3 separate regions of the Homo sapiens genome follow, and regions 2 and 3 are each reported to be linked to region 1. The links are microRNA targets in miRTarBase. Many come from high-throughput screens and were not tested one by one. Region 1 holds a microRNA gene; each other region holds the end of a gene's coding sequence.

What was found. Region 1 holds the annotated microRNA hsa-miR-466 (AUACACAUACACGCAACACACAU, at 4,153-4,175, shown strand). A microRNA usually pairs through its seed, bases 2 to 8, with sites in the 3' UTR of a target mRNA and lowers its output. Matches are read on the target gene's strand: a 7mer-m8 pairs with bases 2 to 8, a 7mer-A1 pairs with bases 2 to 7 and ends in A, and an 8mer does both.
Region 2: miRTarBase lists NDST1 as a target of hsa-miR-466. Seed matches in the 3' UTR shown: 7mer-m8 at 6,270-6,276.
Region 3: miRTarBase lists RHCG as a target of hsa-miR-466. The part of its 3' UTR that is shown has no 7-base or 8-base seed match.

The regions. Positions count from the first base shown.
Region 1 is chr3:31,157,843-31,165,888 of GRCh38, reverse strand. MIR466 (microRNA 466) reads left to right here and starts at 4,102; the gene lies at 4,102-4,185.
Region 2 is chr5:150,552,590-150,560,635 of GRCh38, reverse strand. It overlaps NDST1 (N-deacetylase and N-sulfotransferase 1), which reads right to left. Exons shown (of 15, transcript NM_001543.5): 15 at 2,425-7,423. The coding sequence ends at 7,304. Among named protein-coding and RNA genes, the nearest start is that of NDST1, 48 kb to the right of the region's middle. RefSeq lists an enhancer at 3,359-3,528.
Region 3 is chr15:89,466,078-89,474,123 of GRCh38, forward strand. RHCG (Rh family C glycoprotein) reads right to left here. Exons shown (of 11, transcript NM_016321.3): 10 at 6,634-6,786; 11 at 5,330-5,778. The coding sequence ends at 6,658. It overlaps LOC105370964 (a long non-coding RNA gene), which reads right to left and starts at 3,195. Exons shown (of 3, transcript XR_932600.4): 1 at 3,073-3,195. It overlaps LOC112268153 (a long non-coding RNA gene), which reads left to right. Exons shown (of 2, transcript XR_002957725.2): 2 at 3,077-3,654.

The DNA.
Region 1 (8,046 bases):
CAATTTTAAGTCCTCGCTTTGTCTCTTATTAGCTGTGTGGCTTTGGTTGTGTTATTTAACTCTTCTATGCCTCAGCAACCTTATCTGTGAAACGCATATCGTAATAGCACCTACTTCATAGTGTTGTGGGAAAATTAAATGTTTTAGTGTAGAATAAAGCACTTATAAAAGTACTTGGCACATAGTAAGCATTCACGAGTGTCAGCTAATGTTATTGTTGCTGTCATCATCCTTCACTCTCTGCTGTTAAGGGAACAATTAGCCAGGGACTGGTTTACTCAGTGGTATCTGCAGCAGAGCTATGAGGAGAGTGTGGATAAGAGCGCTTGGACGTGCGTGGCTCTCAGGCTCCTAGAATGAAGTGTTTTCTTTCCTTTGATCTCTGCAGGGTAGTGACTGCTCTACGGGCCTCAATAGCTTCACGTGATGTTGATTTCTGTATCTTGTTGGTTATGGCCAGTGTTTCTTCAGGAATTCCACTTTTAGTTGATTATTCAGTGAAGCTGGTAAATATGATTCCCTGCAGCTCCAGGAAGAAGTAATTTCTGGTTTTTGTTATTTTTGGAAAACTTCTTTGTATGCCTCATTGCTGGTTAAATAGACAAGACTTCTGCTTGCTAGATTTCATGAATTTGGGGCTTTCTAGAAAGCAATACATTATGCTGCTTTAAATATTAAGTGTCCTCAGGATGGGGAACATCACACCCTGGGGCCTGTCGTGGGGTGGGGGGAGGGGGGAGGGATAGCATTAGGAGATATACCTAATGTAAATGAAGAGTTAATGGGTGCAGCACACCAACGTGGCACATGTATACATACGTAACAAACCTGCACGTCGTGCACATGTACTCTAGAACTTATAGTAATAAATAAATAAATATTAAGTGTCTTAAAGAATTACTTTAAACTGATTGCCATGAATAGGATTCACTTTATTTCAGAGTCGAAGAAAGCAGTTCATGTTATAACATGCGGTGTCTGAACGCACAAATCAGGTATTCATCTGATTTTGGCCACTCTAGGACTATAAATAAAACCGTCAGTTCATCAGGTTCCAATTTTCTATCTATAGTCATTCTCAGATTTTTTTTTTTTAATCCTGGGATGTTCTTGGGACAATAAAAAAGATTAGCTAAGAGTGACCAAATCCGCACCCTAAATTTAGTACTATGTTACACTGACTACATACTGTATGAGCTTTAAAGCACTGTAACAACTCACAACAAAAGTTATGTAGTAAATTCTGATATAACCTTGAAGTCTCCACCCTAAGGAGGGAGTGCTGACTTTCAGACACTGAGCCCAAGCAAGTGGCCTTTACACTGGTTTAGTCTGGTTTCTTTCTTGCACGGTCCAGGTTTTGCTAACTTTCCTCAGAGAATCCTGAGCCTGCTTTGCTGGCATGTGTTTCCTTTTGTCCCAGTTTTTGTTACTAGTTACCACAAATTCTTAGGCTTTGTGATATACTTCCCTTATATTCCCTTTTAGCACAGCTCCCATAATGTATCTCTGGAAGGTTAAGTCTGGCAAAACTGGCCTTTACTACTTTACTAATTATATATATATATATGAATGGCCCTCATCTGTTTCCTTGGGGTGGGCTATTTTTCTTTTAAGAAAATGAAGATGATTTCCTCTATGTTTTTTGCAAAAATTCATTATGACGGTAGGAGTGAATATGATCATGGAGATAATGATGTTGATGTTAACAATGACTGCACTTCCTACTACCATGCCATCCTCACAACAACCCCTATAGAGAGATTTTTATATTATTTAATATTTAGTTATAATTTATTCATATAAATTATTTGCAAATATAATAATTTATTGAGAATATTATTTGTATATTCCTTTTACAGACAGGAAAATTGAGGCTAAGAGAAGTTAATTAACTTGCCCAAGATTACATCATTAACACATTTTTGAGCTGGAATTGAAACCCAAGTCCAACTGTCTGTGGAGTCCCAGGTTTTAACCACTAAGATAATAAAAATATAAACATTTACAAATGTAATTTTAAATTAGGAGATCAGATGTGCAAATCTAAAGATTGGGTCATGGACTAATTAGGAATCATAATTGTGTGGAAGTAGCTACCGGCTGGAAAGAACTCTAAGGATTCATTTTGTCCACACCCTGAACCCACTCTCCTCTACTGGGCCATGAATTCTTTTAACGACTACTTAGAATTTTTAAATATTTGTACCATTCAAGGATTTTTATAGTCTTCAAATATCTTTTGTTTTCCATTCTGTTTTTCATAATGAAAAACAAAAACTCAGACCTTAATTTTCATTTAACTAAGTTAAGGTGTATTATCTGAGGTTCCTCAGACAACAGTAAGAGATAATAGACAGGAATTAATGACCCCATTCTTGCATTAGTAGCAAGTAGCATTTTAAACTCTTTGGTTGGTTTCTAGGATGTTGGTTTTACATGTGAAACTTGGATGAATGAGCAATAAAAAGAGAATACTTGAAATGTGTATTTCCTGGCTTCTGTGTTGTCGACATTTGGAATGGTGGTTTATTTCCCACAACCCAATTTTAATATATGTTTTATTCCGTGCATCATTTTGTAAACATAGTAGAGGCCCACCACATGGCAATTTGATTGGCATGGTTGAATCTAGTGCTCGTGTCCTGAGGCTTCTGAGCTAGTGTGGAGGGAGGAGTCCTTTGTAACATGTCTCTGATCAAATTATGCTTTCTCTTTAATTTGTTTACAACTCAACAGCACCTTGGAAGCAGCTAGGTAATTTAGATGGCAGGCATAATTTCATATTTCTTAGGTTTATATTCAGGGCCAACTAAAATAAGGCCTTTATTTCCTCTAATTCATTGTAAAATAAGGAGGTCTTGGGTGGGTGTGGTGGCTCATGCCTGTAATCCCAGCACTTTGGGAGGCTGAGGCGGGTGGATCACGAGGTCAGGAGTTCAAGATCAGCCTGGCCAAGATGTTGAAACCCCATCTCTACTAAAAATATAACAATTAGCCGGGTGTGGTGGGGGGAGCCTGTAATCCCAGCTACTTGGGAGGCTGAGGCAGAGAATTGCTTGAACCCAGGAGGCAGAGGTTGTAGTGAGCTGAGATTGCGCCATTGCACTCCAGCCTGGGCAACAAGAGCGAGACTCCATCTCAAAAAAAAAAAAAAGAAAGAAAGAAAGAAAGAAAGGAGGTCTCTGGATCAGAATCTTCCTTTTCAGGATCCTCTGCAAAGGAAATTCCACTGGGGAGGTAGGTACAGCAGCAGTTCCTGACTTTGATATTAGAGTTGTAGAAGCATGAAAAAAATCTCCCTACCCTAAGCATTTTACTCAAGTCATCTTATTCCTCCAATTCTGATATTTCCTACAGCAATTTCCTCAGTATTTACCATCTTGTAATATATGGATTTTTCCAAGCTGACCTTTTGGAAATGAGATGTGATGTAAATAAGTGTACAACTGTATTAAATATATCTTAAAGAAACATGACTTGTGCTTATCTACTTTTCCATTTCTATCATCTGAGGACCGCCCTGAGATCCACTAAGATAGAGTTGTGTTTGGTTGGGATGGGTAATTGTAGAGAAAGGCAGAATAAGCACCAGGGAAGATGAGAGAAGTCAACAATGCCTGGAATTAAGGAAAGGAAAAGGAAGGAGAAATGGGGAAGGGGCAATGAGGAGGATGAGATTTAGAGAAAACCCCTTTTGTTTCTACAGGCTTCCCTGCCATCTCTCCATTCCACATTCATGCCCACAGTTTGTTTTGTGAGTGTGTGTGTGTGTGTGTGTGTGTGTGTACTGGAAGGCATGGGGTAATGAAAACATATTGGCTTAGCTCTGTGACTAACAAGAAAAGTGGTCACTGGTTAAGTTAATGTCTTTGGGCTCTGTGTTCTCATTTGTAAAATAAGGAAAGTGTTGCTTCTAATTCTGAACTTTTGACTCTGATGCAGTTTCTCACTGTGTTCTCTCAAGTTCAACCAGAAAATGAAATGAATCTGAAATCCCTTCAAGTTGTTAAAAATTTGCATATATGTATAACATATGTATTAAGTATACAAAACTTTAAATGTACAACTTTATGAACTTTTATATGTGTATATTTGTATGTGTGTGTATATGTGTGTTGCATGTGTGTATATGTGTGTATATATGTACACATACACATACACGCAACACACATATATACATGCACACACCCACGTAATGGCACCTAGATCAAGATACAGAACATTTACAACACCACAGCCTTGCCTATTCTCAGTCTGTTTTTTAACTTCGTATTGATATTCACGGTCATAATTCACAAATGGAATCATCATACCTTATGTCTTCCTTTAGGTCTGGTCTTTTTTGCTCTTTATTGTACTTCTAAAATTTATCTATGTTGTTCTATTTAGCAATCATTTATCCTTTTTCTTGCTGAGTAGTATTCTGCTACCCATAATATACCATTGTTTATCCACTTTATTGTTGATGAACAATTGGGTTGTTTCTAATTTTTGTCTATTTTGAATGAAGCTTCTATGAACATTCTTGTCAAAGTCTTCTGGTGGACATATGTACTCATTTATTTAGGGTATATACTCAGGAGTAGAATTACTGGGACATGGTTTTACATTTAGTTATAGGAAGAGCTACCAAATAGTTTTCCAATGTGATTGTGCCAATTGACACTCACTAATGATCAGAGTTCCCTTTGTTCCACATTCTCACTAGCACTTGGTATTCTTTTATTCGATGTAAAGACTATTTTTTATTTGGTCCTTCATTCACTTTTATTAAGAAAAAATATTAATTGAGTGCTTATGTTATAGCAGGCCCTGTGCTATGGAGAGGTTATTGTTCTTACTGTCATAAACCTAATGTTTGAGTTAGGGGCCCACAGACTTGTTCAACTATACTTGAACAACACAGACTTCTGCGATCCATTATATGCACATGTACAATACAAAATTTTTTTAGGTACTGTATGTTGGAGAGGGAACTTCTGCCTGAATTCTAATTTGGTAATACACTGCAGGGAGGAGCATCTACCTTTTTGTCCATTCTTCCATTCTGCTTCCTGGCTCCGTTGCAAAGGAGAAGTTGTAGATCTGGCTGGTTAAAGCCTAAAGCATTCACTAAGAAGCATCACTGGTGCAATTTCCAGGCTTCAAATGGCTTGCAGCTCTTTTCTGAAATCTTTCTTTCACTGTCTGTCTTCTACATAGAAGGTGCGGCCACAACTTTCAGAAGATCAGAGAAGGCGTATGTGAGGAGGAAAGAATTTAGCTGGGTCTTGAATGATGAGTATACCCACTGGATGAAGAAGTTGGGTATAAGTATTCTGGTTAGAGAAAAAGAAAAGATAAAGACAAAATTGTGACTTCCAGGGACTGTTGGTGATCTGGTTAGGTTGGAGTGTAGGATTTGAGACAGGTATAGTAAGTAAGGTATGTGGCCACAGAGGTAGAAAATGGATAAATCTCCAGTAGTCTTTTATGATATGCAAAGAATGTTCCCTGTTGGTGGTGAGGCTACTGTGGGGATTAACCAAGATAGTGATATTATGGCATTTTCTATATTAGAACATTTTTTGTATTATTAAAATATGTCCTACATTCTGAAAAATAAAGCTGAAAATGCTAAGTAATATGTGTCCTATTTCTAACAATTGTGGAGTAGATTCAACACTATTCAGTTGTTACACAGAAAAGTGCTATTTGAAAATGTTGATTACTGAGTCCTCTAATTATCAGCATCCTACTGAGTAGTGGGCTTGTTAATACCTCAAGAGTAAGGGCTATGTCTCTAGCCTCTTACATCTTATAAATTGAAGACATTTCAGAGTAATCTTAAGTCCAATGTTCTCATTTTACTTATAGAGATTGATGCTTATTTATTGTATCTCCAGCATCTCCAGTTCAGACTGCCCAATTCTCTGGATGCACTCCAGGGTTTGTGCATCCTGGCATTGTGACAGGTTGGGCTAGATCATGGCAGATGGATAAGAAAGCTAAGCATATCTGAAAGTCAACATCTGGGGTAAAAGTGAACTGAAAAATAACATAGACTATCCCAATAGAGGGTCAGTTTAAAACAGTTGTGCAAGGAGTCAAGGTCCAGGTCAGAAGTAACGAGACAGAACTAGAGACCTCAAGGCAGGATGGGGCTGATTCTGAGACATCTATGGAGGTATGAAACACTGAAACCAGAGTCTTGTTATAGAGGAATGTTGGTTATGGTCATAATCATTGATGGGAAGAAAGTCCTGAAGTATACGGCATCAGTTATTTTTTTTAATAGGTAAACATTACTTGATTGCCATGAGGATGGCTAAAGTCCAATCTTGGTATGCCAAAAAAAAAAAAAAAATGCTGGACTGAATTAAATCAGCTGATACACTGTGTTGCAACTGAAACCAATAACTGTAAGGAGTTGCATATGAGCTAGGATATCCTGTTGCAAGGAACAGAAAATTTAATTTCAATTGACCTTTTCAGTGAAAGAGATTTATTACTTTAGGAACCTGAGCATGCAGAGGCAATAACGCGTCCATGATTGGTTGATCCAGCAGTTTGAGGGTAGCACTATGGATTTAGTTTCTTTCCATCTCCCTTCTATGGCTCTCACGGTGTCATTTTCCTCCTAAGTCTGGTTGCCCTCATGGCTTTAAGATGGCTGTCATAGGCATTGGGATAATACGGTTTCTGTTCAATGCTGGCAGGGTACAGCGGGTTTATGGCCCAGCTTTCTGAGCAAGAGTCCTACAATCAACCTTGATTGGCTTGCACAGGTCACAGGCCCACCCTTGAACTCATGCTTGAGTAAAACCAACCAGGGACCACTATTGGAGTGAGGGGGAAGTTTGAGCTTATTCTGAAATAATATGGGATGCATGGAGAGAGGTAGCTATTCAAATAATATCTGGGGGCTATTAAAAGAAAGACATGAAATGTATTGGGTGGGTAACCAACTGTGTCAATTATAAGCAAGAATACTTGACATAAACTGAACTTCTGGATGCCACTTGCCGAGAATCTAGACCCCCAGCACTAGGGTTACTAATTCAGTATCTCTGCATTTGAGTGCATTTCCCCTATTTATGTGACAATAAAACACTTTTGGGAACCACAAGAATGCATGACTTTAGAAAAATTTTTAAAATTTTCCATGAATTCTTTTCCTTTATAACAATACTATTAGTACATGTTTATAACCTAAAATTTAGAAAATACAGAAAAATGAAGAGGACCATTTGAAATATTTTTCTTTCTTCCATGGGAAATGCGTGTATTTCCTAAAGAGGGATGGTATTGCATTTGTTAAGTGGAAGTACTGAGCATGAGCTTTGAAAAATCTATTATGCTCCTTTCTGATGAATGCTTTACATTTCATTAGAATTCCTCTACATCTTCAGAGCAATTTTGGGATACTTGCCAGCAGTTAATGGTCTCTCTGTACTATTAACACACAGGGACAGAGGAGCTTTGTCATGTCATCACCAAGACTGGCTTTATGGAGAAAGTCATTAATCAAGGCAAGCAGGGCATTTTGCAAATATCCAGGCCTGGCGAATCCAACCACCTCAACTGAGGAAACTTGTACCTGGAAGAATCTAAATGTGACTCAGCCCTCCCTGGAAATGACTGAGCTTCAGCCTGAAGGACTTCGTTACCTGAGGGAAATCCTTATGGATCAGGCTTGAATTATTTTTATTTACATGCTTTGTTGAAGGTGAGCTTGTTTTCCTAAACTTGTATGCTCAGCTGTTCACCTGAACCCCTGGACTGGAGGGACTGTTGACACTCACAGTTCTCTGGATGGGTCACCACTTGCCCTGCCAGCACCGTGCTCTCACCTTGTTGGAAGGAAGTTTAAATAATACAGAGAAGATGTCATAGAGGTGATGAGTTTTAAATGAGCATATTATGATAACAAAAAATGTTCCAAATTTCTATAACCTTCAATGCCTCTCAAGAAAGATTTCTGGAAGTTGCTTTATAGTCCCTAGGAATGACAGTCACATAGCAGGATTGTTTCTTCTTCTTTTTATGCACTTTGTGCCAGGG
Region 2 (8,046 bases), not on the chromosome of region 1:
GGCTGGATTCATGTCCCGTGTTTTCGTTAGGAATTTCCCAGGTGTTGCACTGGGTCCTTCCCATTGCATCATATCGGGAGACATGGTGTCAATTTGTTCCAGCAATGGTGATGTTAACCCTAGCTCCCCCGTCTGTCAGCTTGGGGAAGCTAAGCTCCCAGGGCCAGAGAGGAGCTGAGACTGGCCTACAGTCACAGGAAAGTCAGGATCCTCAGCTCAGGGTCTTCACGAATGCTTAGGATAAATGCAGCCAGGCAAGAAATTGATCACCGGCACCTAGGCCTCCTCCAGATCCTAACTCCATAGGAGCTTAAGGGCTGGGTAAAGCAGTGTTGGCCTTCATCGCATCGTCATGTAAGTCTAGCTGCTTGGAGTCCCCCTTTCTGCTTTGTCCATTTCTATTTTTCATTAAGACTTTTTCATTCCACAAATGATATGCAAATGCATTATCCTTGTCTTATATATATTTCAGCCAAGGCTGAAGTCTCCTTTGAAAGTTCCCCTTCTCAGTCTTTCCTCCCCTAGTATCAGTTTGATATGAGACGTCTATCTACAACCCCAGGAAAAATACAAACTGTAGTGTTCTCTTTCCATGATGGTCACATTGTATAAGTCTGTCATAGAAATTTCCCTGGCAGGGCTTGGAGACTGAGCTCATTACTTTCAACTGAATCATCATTACAGTGAATGGATACACTGGAGGTTACCTAGCTGAGACCCTGTGGATGGACATCTAGGTTGTTCCCAGCGTTTTCCTATTGTGAAACACACTGCCCTACACGCATGATCCAGGCTTCTCCAAGGTAACTCCCCACCTCTAGAAGCCCAAACCACTCCTGGGGCACCAGATTTACTGGGTGGACATCCCCGTGGGGGGTGAGGAGGGGCTGATGGGCTGCTACTCATTCAGCCTATTAGAACTGCAGGACTTTTAGGACCTCTGGAAGCAACTGGGCTGGGTTTTCACAATGTGTTTTGAGAAATCTTAGGGTTCCAAGATAGCCTGAGAGACAGGGAGGAGGTGAGCTGGGAAGAGTCCAGAGCTTCACTCCCACTCCAACCACAGAGCACCCCCACCTTTACCTGGTTTTCAATTAAGTGATTCTTTCAAAACAGAATCTCAGCTGTATGTAAATTCAAAAATCCCTGTTGCAGGCTGACCCCTCAGTTGGCACAGTCACCTTTCTGCACCATGCCTCTGGATCTGCTCTTGTCCATGCAGCCTCCAGCTGTGTTCTTGCTGGTGAGGGCCACCTGACCCAAACCAAGCTCCCAGCTGACGAACTGCAAAGAGGGCTCTGCAGGTGCTGCCCTTGTGCCATCAGAGGTGGCACTGTGGTATTTCACTTTGAACATACTGGGTCCTGGGAAGCAGGACTGCCCAGCTGTGTCCCCAGCATGCCCCTCCTCTGTCCCTCAGAAGCTGTGCACATTTCTGGGTACCGTCTCTGACAAACATGGTGGCCTGATTCAGTGTTCCCAAACTTCCCTGAACACCAAGGAGTCTGTTAAAGTACACAGTGCTGGGTCCCACCCCAGAGGTTCTGAGTGAGCAGATTTTGGGGGAGCCCAGGAATGTATATTGTTTAAAGCTTCCCAAGGGGATTCTGAAGGAGCATGTCTGATCACCTGCATTGCAGACACTGGCCTGGGCCCCTACCTGTGAACTCTCCTTCTCCAGGCAAATCTCGAGTCTGGCCCTCAATTAGGCTGTGAGGGCTTCAGTCATTTGTTTTACCCTAAGTTTTCCTGGACAGTGGGGCTCTCCGTATTAATTAGAACCCATAGGAACCATGGATCTGAGTCAGAGTTTCCCACTCTGAGCCAGAGTTACACTGGGCTGCCTCAGTGTACTGGAGGGCTCCTTATAAATTCCTCAGTGTACTGGAGGGCTCCTTAAAGATGTTGGGCCCCACCCCACATCTGCTGGAGCTGAATCTCTGGAAGTAGACCTGGGAATCTGCATGTTTTAGGCAAGTTCTTCAAGTGAGGCCATGGAGTCCAACTCCCTCCATGCGTCTAAAAGGTGAGGGAAATGGGATAAAACAGTAAAAGTGGCTTGCCCCCAGCTACAATATACATTAGTAGCAGAAATTGTTCCAGCCCCCAAGTCTCCTCTCGGTCCAGTGCCCGACACCCAGGGCTTCTGAGCAATCCAGCTTGTCTGAGGGCTTCTATCACCTGAGATGCCCCCTGTGGCTGCCCTAGGATAGGCCTCTGCTGTATCTGGGAAATCTTCCATTTATAACCCAGTGAAAATGATCTGCGTTGACCAAGTCACCATGTGTATAGGTGTGTGCATACATGTGGGCACGTGTGCATGCCTGAGGTGGCAGGGACAAGCGGGCTTTGGCCGTGCATGCAAACACCCCTACTCCACCCTTCCCTGCGGGCCTTGCAAAAAGGTCAGACAGGACCAAGGTGTACAAACAGAACCCCACTTTATTAGCAGTTAGTTCGAGATTGTACATTAATGGAGGAAGGTCTCACCTTTAACACAACCCAAAACGGCTGGTTCGAGAGCCCTCATCAGGCGAACTGGATAGCACCCCCTCTCCCCACTCTCCCCACCCCCCTACAAGGGAAGGAAACCTCTGCCTGCTTCCCCAGTGTGCCCCCCACCCTCTCCAGTCGGCCCTCTCCTCTCCCAGGAAATGACATGAATTTCATGCACAAATTACAAAAGGAGCCCTCTTGCTAATAATAAAAGCTAACACAGTCATAGAAAACCCTCTCCTCCCTCATTCTCCTCCAGGGCCGGAAACAGTAAGAGCAGGAGGGATGAACTTCTTAGGATAAAACGCATCCAGTTTCCCCCAGGTTCCTGGCATTGACCCCACAAAACCCTATGCCAGTCCCTTAGGGAAGCTGAAAACTCGCCAGCCGTCTGAGCTGGCAAGGGCAGCCAGCCCACAGCTGTCAAGCCAGGAACCCAGTGTTGCCTCAACGGCCTGGGCAGCAGGGGGTCTAGGCCGCCCCCTCATCCTCACATCAACTAGAGCAGAGGCTGCCTCCTTTGATGTGTGAAAATCCCTGCTGTGGCCCCTATCTGCTCATTCTACAGATGAAGAAACTGAGGGCCTGGGAGGAAGATGGTCAGGCAGCTACTAAATGCACCCGGCTGGGATGAAACTTCACAGCTCCTGCTGCCAGCCAGGGCTCTTCTCACACCACAGCTTGCGGGAGGCAGTTCCCCATGTAGGCTTTTCCCTGCTGCAACTGAGAGCCTGGCTCTGCTCCAGTGCACACAGACCACGGGTCTCCAGGAAATGAAAACCCTGGGACCCCAAAATAGAAAGAGAGAGACATATGATGTGTTTGGTGCCCTGTGGCCCATCCCCAGGGTCGAAGGCCCAGCCTTCAGGCATGCAGCCTCCTCCTTCCAGAGCCCTGTGTCCTTCCTTCCAAGGCCCAGATATTACGGCCTTCTCCAGGGAGACTTTCCGGCCCCCCCAGAGCTCTTGCTCTAACTGGCCCCTCTGCTGTTTTGGCACTTGGTACAGGTGACAGTGGAGGCGCATCTTAGGCAGAAGTGAAGCTGTCAAGTCAGCACAAAAGGCAAAATCTCATGTAGCCTAAATTATCCTTGAAAGTACAGGGGATAGAAGAAGTGGTTATGCGACACCATGAGCAAACAATCTGACAAATTCAGAATGTGGGGCTTCAAAAAGACAGCAGGCCTAGGGCCTCAAAAACAATGTCATTTAAAAACTCAAAGTGAGCTGAGGGAAGACCTTTCAGCATTCAAAGAGGTTTTAAAAACATAGTTAGAAAATGCAATGTGTGCACCGTGACTGGATGCTGATTCCAAAACCAGACACATAAGTTACCTGGGAGACAATTGGGGGGATTTGAATACAGATTAGATAGCAGACATCGCTGGGAAATGACTTCTCGTCTTGGCTGTGATACTGGGCCAATGTGTAGGACAATGCCCTAACTCTTAGGAGATGCAGGCTGAAGCTTTCAGGGATCAAGTTTCATGATGTTTGCAATGTACTTTTAAATTAGGACAGAGAAAACATATACATACACAGAGAGAGAAAAAGAATGTGGCAAAATGTTAATAATTTTAGATCTAGATGCTGGGGAGTGGGCATTCATAATTAAATGTTTGGTAAAACATTGTTGTATTTGCTTTTCCCACTAACAAGCCCATGGGCACAGCTCTGTGCTGGGACCACCAACCTCTGCAGGTCAGCGCAGCAGCTCTCCTCTGCTGGGAACAGATGGCTTCCTTAGCTGGGCCCAGAAGCACTGACTGCTCATCAGGGGGGCTCAGAAAAGGCCCATTTTTAAACTTCAGACTCATCCTCCAAGCAGCAGGATGCTCCACCACAGAAGGCTCTGGAACTCTGAATGACTGAGGCAGCTGCAGGTGACACTCGCACCTGCACCCACCCTGGGGCAAAGGCTCATGGAGGGGACCACAGAATAGACGATGGAGCCACCTGAACAATTTCAGTTATTTCTCTCTCCTTTTTTTGGCCAAATGCTTAGAGTGAATTAGTGGACATTGAAGACTGGCCTCGCTGGCCCACTCATCTGTGGCTTCTCTTCTCGGGAGGGGGTGTCCTTGTACCCATTAGCTAACAGCCCCCCAGGCAGCTTATCTGCCTCTCCTTCTACCCCCCATACCTGCAAGTCCCGGCAGTGTCTGGACCTAGTGGGTCTTCAAGAAAGGTCTGTTAGTGGGAGGAGAAGTGGCAGCAGTGACCTAGGCAGACAGACTTGGAACATGTGGCAGGTCCAGTCTCCAGGCTTGCAGAAGGGTCCAGGCAAAAATCCAGAAGATCTCTGCTGTCACAGGATTTCCAACCGCCTGCTCCTTCCCATAGCCAGAGGCAGAGAGAAGTGGAGCTCCTGCCCTAGGCCAGCCCACCTCTCCTGCCTTCCATGCTCTGCGAGAGAGGCCTCCAGGCCTAGAGGGTAGATTTCCGAACCTGGGAGCTGTAAGATCCTCACCCATCCCGCAGCCCAGTCCCCTCACTGACGGATGGGACTCTGGAAGTCACTGCCCCTCTCTATAAGCCCCTGGCTCCATGGCGTGGGCATGTCTTCATGAGCACACAAGCAGACATGCCACCCTGTCCTCAGACCCTTTGCTGCTCATCCTGCTGGCCCAACGATGCCCAAGTTCCCAGGCTTGCAGGCCCCATTGAGAGGCATGATGGGGACACTGCTGTGTACACAGTGAAACCACCTGCAGCTGGTCCCACTGAGTGTCCAACTTTCTTCATCCCAGCAGAGAACTGGAGAAAAGGGAATCAGCTCAGAACAGACCCAGGCCCCCACAGGCTGGGGAAGGACCCCTCGAGGGAGAACACGACAGGGATGCAAACGCAGACCTCGGAATGAGAAGGCTCAAAGGCACCCTGGCTGGGAAGGAGTGGTTTGTCCCCATATCCTGGAATGACCATGCTGTGACGGAGGAAGGGACAGGAACCTGGCACAGAGTAGGGTCCCAAGGATGGGCTCAGAGGCAGTGTGGCATTGGAAGAGGAGCACGATGGGACTTGGAACCGGGAGCCTCGGGTTCAACGCTCAGCCCTGCTCCCAGCTGGCTCCATGACGTCGGCCAAGCAGGCCACCTCCCCTTTCTGGACCTGTTTCATACCCGTCAAAGGACCTTCCAGCCCCAAGATGCTAGAGTCTTCTGAACAAGACAAGCCTCTCCAGAAAGTATTTCCTGGGGTTCAGAGGGAAGCAGAATTTGGCAGTTGGAGGGGGCCAGGGAGAGGCACCCCAGCCTCAGTCACTTCACATTGTTAAATGGGGTGGGGTAGGAGCAGACCCCAACCAGAAATCAGCCCAGAGATCCCACTGTCTACAAGGGCCTGGAGACAGTTCTGTGGGCCTTGGTGGGCATCCCAGCTCTCAGGGCAGCTCCCAGCCTAGCACCATGTGAGGGAGAGTGGGTGGGGCAGCTTTTGACCCCAGCTCTCCTAGCCCAGCCCTGGCTGTTTCCTTTGGCCAAAATCCCCTCAGGGTCACTGGACTTCACGCAGCCCGATGTCCTGGAGAGAGCTGGTCTTCCCTGCGCATCTCACCACCTCTGTTCACCTGGGGTAGCCCCAGAGCAGCCACGGCACTGGGGAGGGCCCCTTCCTAAGGTCTGCTCAGCCCCAGGCCACTGAGGACACAGCCTCCCTCCCTGCCACCTCATCTCTAGCTCTAAGACAGGGTGACCCCTGAGACTGGGGCTTACCACCATTTTGTAGGACTGAATTAAAAACGAACCCAACCAAAAAAAATAGAATATATATATATACACATTATATATATATATATATATATATAACACAGTGCGACCCCAGCACCCAGGGTATAAACTCTGGCACCAAGAAAAAAAAAAACAAAATATTAAAATATTTTAGCTTCTTAGTATTTGGGAGGTTAAGGGGGTCTCTGAGAGCCCTCGGCCACAGGTGGCTAAGCAAAGCCGTGGCTGGCAGTCTCACCAGCTCGCCCATGTCTGCCTGGGCCTGAGGCTGGGAGGGTGTGGGGACCGTGTCTGTACATGGGAACATGTTACTGGCAGACCCCTGGCCTGCCTCAGTCTTTTACCACAGGAAACACCACACATCATATCCCAGGGGGAAGAAAGGGGTGCAGGTGGGGCCCGGAGAACTGGGCCCGATGGCAAGGCAGTGCCCCAAGGCCCTGCGGGAAGCCTTGAGGATGGAGTGGATACTGTAGGAACCAGAAATTCTTCCCCAGAACGGGAGGGTGAGATGTGAAGGTAGGAACCAGATGTGGAGGCTGGGAGTCCTCTTGAGGGGGCCACCCTCCCATCCAGCCTAGGACTGACTCCGGGGACCCAGCTGGCCCCTTGGAAGAGCCTGGCTCGAAACAGGGAAATGTCCAGTCTGTCTCCCCCGGCCAGGCTCTCCTCCCCTACAGCCTGGAGGACAGGGACATATGGCAGCGAATACTGAGGGGCGCCCTGCGGAAGCAGGGAGTGATGGGTGACGAGAGGGGACAGTCGGCGGAACACAGTGAGGGACAGAAAAGAGTCTCGTGGACTCCCTCCTACCAGGAAGCGGCCTCCCCAGGAGCAGCTGGGAACGGAATGGACCTCTGCTGGCGAGGGAGGTCCCTTAGGCCGCAGACCCAGCGGTGGGTGCTCCGAGGTGCTTGCAGATCCGCCTGGGTGCTCCCCCAGCCCCACCAGACCTCCACAGAGTATTGCTCATAAGTGCGCAGCTGCCCTGGTCCAGCTTCCCACTCTGCAGGTCTGGCTCAGCGTGTGGTGGGATGTCCCAGCTTTCACAAACGTTCAGTCTGGCTGTGGTGGCCACGGCTACCTGGTGTTCTGGAGGTCCTCTCGTAGCCAAGTGGGAAGTGTCTGGCCCATCTTATACAGCAGCTTGGAGAGCTCGATGTTGTGGTCCCGGTAATAGTCCTTCAGGAAGGCTCGGGACTGTAACGGGAAGGAAAGCTCAGACCTTGTGTACTGACTTAAGAGTGACCTCCTCTAAAAATCGCCATGCTCGGCCGGGCACGGTGGCTCATGCCTGTAATCCCAGCACTTTGGGAGGCCGAGGCATGTGGATCACCTGAGGTCAGGAGTTCAAGACCAGCCTGGCCAACATGGGAAAACCCTACTAAAAATACAAAAATTAGCGGGGTGAGGTGGTGGGCGCCAGTAATCCCAGCTACTCGGGAGTCTGAGGCAAGAGAATCTTTTGAACCCGGAAAGCGGAGGTTGCAGTGAGCCAAGATCACGCGATTGCACTCCAGCCTGGGTGACAAAAGCGAAACTCCGTCTCAAAAGAAAACAAAAAAACAAAAAACCCACCATGCTGCTGGCACCACCCCCCATACACCTCTTATTTATCCACAATCTCCTTCTAAATGGTAGCCTCCAATAGTGAACTCCCAGTTGGCAGGAGCATCAAAATATAGCTCACTAAGTCAAAATTCTTCTGATAGGGAGAGGAGAGAGAATTAATAATCAAAACCCAAGGCGGGCAGGGCCAGGGCCAGGCACGGTGGTTCACACCTATAATACCAGCACTATGGCAGGCTGAGGCGGGAAGATCG
Region 3 (8,046 bases), not on the chromosome of region 1:
GTTCTCAGAATAATTAATGAGGCTGTTATCTCTCTCCACCCATTGATGATGGATCTATATACCCTACTGGCTCAGGTACCAGGGGATGCAAAATGGTTCTCAGTCCTACACCTAAAAGATGCTTTCTTCTTCATTCCTCTGGTTCCAGAGTCCCAATACCCTTTTGCCTTTGAATGGGAAAATCCTAATACCAGAGAAAAACACTTGGGCAGTGCTCCCCTAAGGCTTTTGGGATAGCCCCCACTTCTTTGCCCAACCCTTAGAGAGGGATCTGAGGGGTCTGCAATTGGAGGATGGGAGTATACTCCAGTATGTGGATCACCTTCTTGTGTATAGCCCAACCCAAGAGGCTTCTGACCAAAATACTATAAAAACCTTACATTTCCCGGCTGACAGGTCATACAAAGTGTCCAAAAAGAAGGCTCAGATTACTCTCCAACAGGTCCACTGTTTAGGGTACATCTTAACACCTGGAACCTGCAAGTATCCCCAGAACGAGTGCAAGCCATATGTGGTTTGGGCCCCTCCACCCCAAGCAGCAGCTTCATTCTTTTTGGGGAATGGCCAGGTTTTGTGGAATATGAGTACCAAATTTAGGGCTCATAGCAAAGCCCCTGTATGAAGCAACAAGGAGGCCTGAAAATGAGCTAATGGAATGGACCCTGGAAATGAGAGAAGCCTGTGCCAAGCTAAAATAGGCCCTTACCCAGGCTCCAGCTCTTGGGATCCCAGACCTAACTAAGCCCTTCCCTTGTATGTAGCAGAGACGAATGGCATAGCTGTGGGAGTGCTAGTCCAGAAATTAGGATCAGAACCCAGACCAAACACCTACTTTTCAAAGAAGTTGGAGAGAGTGGCCTTGGGATGGCCAAGTTGCCTGTGGGTAACAGCAGCCATTGCTATGTTAGTGGAGGAAGCCACTAAAATCACCCTGAGCCAATCACTGGAAGTTCTAACCCCCCATCAGGTAAAGTCAGTCTTAGAGATAAAAGGACACATCTGGGTGATGGGGGAAAGGTTAACCAAATACCAGGCCGTGCTCCTAGACAATCCAGATGTAACCCTTAAAACCTGTAACACTTTGAATCCAGCTTCATTGATACCCATAGGCCCAATGACAGATCATTCCTGCGAGCCAGTCATTGCACATGCATATGTTAGCTGGCCTAATTTAAAAGATCAGCCTCTCCCAGATTCTGAGGACTTGTTCACAGATGGCAGTTCTGTGTCAAATGGGGAACACTGAGCTGTGTATGCAATAGTCAATCACAACACCCTTATCGAAGCCCAGCCACTGCCCCTTGGCACATCAGCACAAAAGGCTGAAATCATTGCTCTTACCCGAGCATTAATTTTGGGACAAAATAAAAAGCTTAACATCTATACAGATTCTAAATATGGCATTCCTTGTGGTTCACGCTTATGCTGCAATCTAGAAAGAAAGGGGACTACTAGCTAGCAAACCCTCCCCCATAAAGCATGGGCCTGAAATTCTTCAGCTATTGTAAACAATACACCTGCCACAGGCCATAGCTATAATCCATTGTAGGGGGCATCAAAGGGACTTAACTCCTATAGCACAAGGGAACAGAAAGGTTGATAGAGAAGCCAAAGCCACATCCCTCAGGGTGCAATCCCAACAGATCCTAGCACTGATTCCTTTCTATGATTCCCAGTGGATCCCAAATACACACTACAGGAAGAACAGTTAATAAAGGAGCAAGTGGGGCAAAAAAAAAAAAAAAAAAAAAAAGATCCTGGTGGTATATGAGATCAAAAATACATCTGCCTCAAACAGCCCAATGGAGAATTATAAAAACCCTGGATGACTCCTTCCATATGGGGAGAGATGCCACCCTGGCCATGGTTAACAGGCTCTTCATTGGGCCTAACTTAACTTCGGTGGTTAAGCAGGCCTGTCAAGCCTGCTCACTGTGTGCACTTAACCCAGGAAACAAAATGCCTCCTCTAATAGAACCAGACCAGAGGAGAGGAACTTACCCAGGGGAAGACTGGTAATTAGACTTCACCCATATGCCAGCTTGCAGAGGATACAAGTTTTTGTGAGTGCTAATAGATATCTTTACTGGTTGGGTCAAAGCTTACCCTACCAGAACAGAGAAGGCTAATGAGGCTATAAAGTTTCCCTTAAAAGAAATAATCCCCCGGTCTGGGTTACCTCAGAGCCTCCAAAGTGATAATGGCTCATCTTTTATCTCCCAAATAACTCAAGGGGTTGCTAAGGCTCTTGGAATCAAATACTATTTACATTCAGCATGGAGGCCTCAATCCTCCAGGAAAGTAGAAATGGCTAACCAAACTCTAAAATGAGTGTTAGCTAAACTATGTCAGGAAACATCAAAAACTTGGGTCAGCTTACTGCCTATAGCCCTCTTAAGGATCCGTAATACCCCTAGAGCAAAAATTAATATAACCCCCTATGAAATGTTATATGGAAGGCCATTCTTAACTAGTGATTTAATTACTGATCCAGAAACAGCCAGTTTAGCAAGATACCTAGTTAACTTAAGACAATTTCAGCAGGCTTTACAAAAGTTTGGAACTCAAAGGCCCCACCATACCGGGAACTAACCAGCAACCCAAAATCAGGCTAAGGGATAAGGTACTTGTTAAAACATAGAAGGAGGGATCACCTGCTCAACAATTGCAACCCCAATGGAAGGGACCGTTTTTAGTGGTACTGGCTATGCCTTCTATGGTCAAGGTACTAGGATTAGATAGTTGGATACATCTTTCAAGGATCAAGTCTGTGATACCTGAAGCCAGGGACCAGGAGCCTGAAGTTTCCATCAGACAGTCAAAAGACAAGTAAATGCCTACCAACTTTCCTTGGTGTTTTTGTTGCATAGTTACTGTAGGCTGGATAATAGCAGCCATGTTCTCAGATTTCTTGCAGTTTAGGTGCTTTCTTTCAAACGATTGGAATCACTTCCTTTGTAGTGACTAAGCAGACTGTTGTAATTCATTCCTATAACAAACATTCCTGACAGCATAGGTATCCACCCCCTGAAGTTCCCATTAAATCTTTTAACCAAATTCATTTCCTCTCACCTAGAGACCATCAAGTTTCAGATGATCCTGTGACAAGGTTTCCAGCCTGTTCCAAATGAAGGCAGCACCCCTGGCCATCAAGAAACTACCCAGTCTCCACTCGATAGATAAAGGCAGGAGTTCGGGGATCCCCAATAGGTAGGGACTGCACCTCAAGTCAGGGTGACGCAGTTACAGAAGAAAGACCATCAGTCACTCTGTCTCCCATAAAGATTTCTGGGGATCATGTCTCTCGGGGGAAATGAGGCAGGAGAATAGGGTCTGGAGGCAGGGAACCTAAGTTCGATGCATGCTGACTGGATATCAGAGGCTACTCCCTTTCAACCCCTCCTTTTTCTGCATGGCAGTTGCTGCCTGGCAGTTGGAAATGAAAGTACCTCGGATTGGTTCCCTCCCGCAACCAATCAGACTGGTTGCGGGCCACTACTTTATGTGCATAGAGTGAACAGATGGGAAACCCCTGGAGGGTATTTAAACCCCAGAAAATCCTGTAGCCCAGGCTCTTGAGCCTCTTGCTCGAGCCCGCTCCCACCCTGTGGAGTGTACTTTCGTTTAAAATAAATCTCTGCTTTTGCTGCCTTGCTTTGTGCATTTGGTCTAATTCTTTGTTCAAAATGCCAAGAACTTGGACAACTATCCTCAACTGGTAACAGACGCGGTGGGCATAGGCTCTTAGTGTAGCCTGCACATTGCACAGGAGGGAGTTGGAAGCCAGCGCTGGCCCCCTCCCCTCCCTGTGCAGCCCCCAGGACCCAGGTCATGTGATCAGGAGGAGGGGTGAGCCCCAGAGCCCTAAAAGCCTGGCTCTGGGTTGGGCCCAATACTGTTGGCCTGGTGGTGCCTGGGATTGGGGTGGGAGGGGTGGGAGGTGGGCTTCAGGAACCACCCCCCCAGCACCCCTTCGCACCCCGCCCCCCACGCCACCCTGCACCCTCTCACGCTGCGGGCCCCTCCCAGGCCCTTCATAGGCATATGGGGCTGGGCCAAGCGGCTCTGCTGGGGGAGGGAGGCTGGGGCTCAGATCAGCTGAAATCAAAGCCACAGCTCCCTCCCCGCCACGCCGCACCCCTGCCGAGCGCCGCGCACCTTCTCCTTTGTCACAATGTTTTTCAATCCGGTGAAGCAAACTGTCCAATTAGAGCCAGGGTCTCCGGCTTCCATCTTTGCCGACGTTTAATTAACATGCTCCTCTTGGCAGCTGCTGACAAGTTCCAGAAACAGGTTGTAAAGGGTTTTTGTCTTTACCCAGCATGGAAAATGAGGGGTGTTACATCGCGGGTACATGAATAGGTTGCATTTCAGATCCCTCCTTCCCCTCCCCCCTGCACTGGTAAGAGGCATGCAGCGGTGTGTGTGTGTGTGTGTGTGTGTGTGTGTGTGTGTGTGTGTGTGTGTGTGTGTGAATTGCAAGGGGGCGGGGAGGGCGGAGTTGGAAGCTGAGAGACCTCCTCCCTTTTCCCTCACCCCTTCTTCCCAGGAGCCTTTGCTCCACAAAAGATCCGGATTCCAAGTCTTATTCTCCAACTGGCACACTTCTGCCTCACATCTCTTCTAGCCAGTAGCAGACTTCACCGTGTTAATTCCTACCCATGGGTCTGTGCCCATGCTGTTTCTTTGCCATCCTTCTGGTAAACTCCTATTCAGCCTCCAGAACCCTGCTCAGGTGGCCCTGCTTTGAGAAGCCAACTGGGTACAGACTTCCTGTCCAGCCACACCTGTCAGAGTTCAGCATGGATTCTGAGGGTCAGGTCTGTCTCCCAGCTAGACTGTGAGCCCCTGAGGGCAGGAAGGTGTATTACTCTGCCCAGGGTGGTGGTGAGCCTGGGAGATCTACCCTCCTGAAACCTTACCCCACTGTCCAGGGAAAAGAAGGCTGGCTTGGCAGAGAGAAAGAAGGGAAGGGATGGGGAGGAGGAGATGGGCCCAAAGGAGCCCTCCCTCCCTTCTCGCAGTCCTGCTGGAGTGCCCAGAGCAGGACCACATGGAGGGCACAACAGAGATGCCAGCTTTCTCAAGGGCTGAGTTTCTGGAGTAGCTGATGGAGGGGCCTTGAAGCAAGACCCCAGCCCAGAGCTGAGCCCTGCTGGGTGCCCCAGGCTGAAGGCAGGCTCTAGTACCCAAGTTCTGCCTGTTCAGCCTGCAATGACTTTCCTCGCAGTGTGGGTGGTACCCTTGGATGAAGGTAAGGGCTGGGGCAGAAGCAGGTCTCTTGGGTCCTTTTCTCCCTCAAACTGGCCCCATTGGAGCATTCACACCATTTTACAAAGGACAACAAGAATGTTTATTCCTGGAGGCTGCCACGCACACAACACAGAGAGGTCTGGGGGACCCAGGGAGCATAGGAGATGCTGGCCGAGGTGCAGGCACGGGGTAGAAGAGCCTCATAGGTGGTGACTGGCAGCTAAGTTGTCTCCTGGGAGAGCTCAGGTTCACCCACCAGGTCCCAGCCCCACTTTGAGCCTGTTTTTCTCCAATGTGGCCAAGACCCCAGGCAGAGGCAGAACTTCTGCAGCCAGAACCCGGCTTGGATGCCCACTTTGTAGCTTCTCCTTCTCCATTCTCAGTCAGACCCCCTGGGATGAAGGGGAGGGCAGGGGTGGAGGCACCTTGAGGCCAAGCCAGCAGGTGGGGGTGCTGCTTGCTCACTCTTGCATCCCTAGCTAGGTCAGCACCAGCTCCTCTGGGCCCCAGGACAGTCTGTGGAGCCTGCAGGGAGACAGCCAAGAGCAGCGGGTCACTGCCGGGTCCTGCTGTAGCCTCTCAGGCACCATTTTCTTTTCTGGATGGGGTGGACATTAAAGGCAACTGGGCATAGCCTCACCTTCCTCTTTCCTGGCACCCTAACATCCTCTCTTGCCACATCACTCAGGCCCCAGACCCAGCTATTGCCAAGCTCTGGCCTCCAAGGAAGTTAAATAACAATAATAAAAACAGTAACAATGACCAGCAAGGACCCCAGTTTCTCCACTTGCTAGTTGTGTGATCTTGAAGAACCTGAACTTCTCCGAGCCTTAGTTTGCTCATCTATTAAAATGAGGGCAGTAATTCTACTTGCCTTGTAGAGATCTTGGGAAGGTTAGATGTGAAAGCCATGAGCAAGGGCTTGGTGCATTCCACAGAGGAGGCACAGTGTTAGTTGACGGAAAGAAAGAGGGGAGGGTGGGTCTCATCTGAGCTGAGCAACTGAATACAACCAGACGTGTCAGCTTCATTTTTATAGATGAGGAAATCGAGGCCCAGTCTCTGGGGTGAAGAGATTCTCAAAGTCACACACCAGCAGGCACAGTCACAAAGCCAAGTGTGCCCCCAGGTCTCCTTCCATATTCCTTCCAGGCCCTTGTGCCTTCACCTGTTCCTGTGTCTGTCCTGGATGCACGTTGTCTGACTCTAAGAAGCTCCCCTGCCAACCCCATGTGCCCACTGCACCTCAGGCAGGAGGGGTGGAAGCCCTCATTTCTTGATGTTTGCTTTTTGCCTCTTTGCTAGTAACATCTGATTCTGAGAGCTGGGCCCCCACTGGGAGAACCTCCCTGTCATCCCCCAAGCCAAGCCCATGCTCACCTGCTCCTCACCTGCCCTGGGAGCCTAGGGTACCAAGGGTACCGAGGAAGCCATGGGTAGTGGGGACACCATGGGTACTGAGGGTACTGAGGGTCCTGAGGGCTTGAAGGTGGGGTCCTCAGGGATGTAGACAGTGCTGTTCCCTTCAGGCATCTACAGAGAGAGGATGCAACTCTGAGGGCCCTGTCCCAGTCCAGGCAAGGGTGTCCCTGGTGACTAGAACCTGGAGCTGCAAATGGTGTGTGGCGAGCGCCACCTTGTGATCGCCGTGCGGATCACATGCCACGGAGAGCAGGGTGGTCCTTCAACACAGGAGTCCTGCCCCTACCCTATATTAGGCACTGTCCTGGGTGCTGAGGCATGGCAAGGAGGAGACAGTGTCCTTGCCCCATGAGAGCAATGGTGAGGCATTGCAGTGAAATACCCAGTGACAGTAAGAGTTGCAAATGCACACAACAGGCTTATAACCCAGCCTGGGGGATGCTGAGAAGTTGTGCTGAACCCACTTTTAAAAGATGAATTGGAGTAAGGGGCAGAGGCGGTAAAAGGTAGTATGGCAAGCTCTGTAAACTGCAGACAGGTCCGAAAATGGGGTGGGGAAGGTGCAGGGAAGGCCAGAAGTGGGTAGAGAGGTGGAGGGCAGGCAGGGCAGGTCAGCCCTGCCCTTGCCCCATCTGTGGTCCTGGGGAACACTGGTCCAATCCCCATCCTCTGAGAAGCCACCTCACTCCCAAGGTAAACCACTCAGGGCCTCAGGGACTGCCTGATAGTGTTCCTTCCATTGGCACAGAATTTTGTTATTCCCAACCAGGTACAGCCAGCCCTCCATACCCATGGGTTTTGTATCAGCAGGTTACACCTATCACAGGTTGAAAATATTTAGAAAAAGCAACAACAAAAAATGACAATATAACAATAAAAATAATAAAAACAAAAAACAATACAGCATTTACATTGTGTTAGGTATTACAAGTAATCTACAGATTACTTAAAATATGTGGGAGGATACATGTAGGCTTTTATGCAAATACTATGCCATTTTATATCAGGGACTTGAGCATCCCCGCAAGAGATCCTGTAACCAATCCCCTGAGGTTACTGGGGGACGTCTGTACTGCTCAAGGTATATAGAGCTGAGAGGTGTGAACTTGGAATAAATTATAAAGATCAAAACAGAACCAAGAGGGAACTTCTACATGGGGGAACTGATAACATTTCTGATTTATTTCGTTAGCGTAAAATCTGTTGGTTTCTAATTGTGGTGTCTAAAATAGTTTAAGTTCTGACTTTCTTAAATATAGAATAGAAATAATTATCCTGTGAGAAAAGAAAGTTTATTAGGAATGTAATAACACAGAACAATTCTTATGATAGAGTGGTAAGGAGAAAGAGACGGATACTAAATTGGGTGAA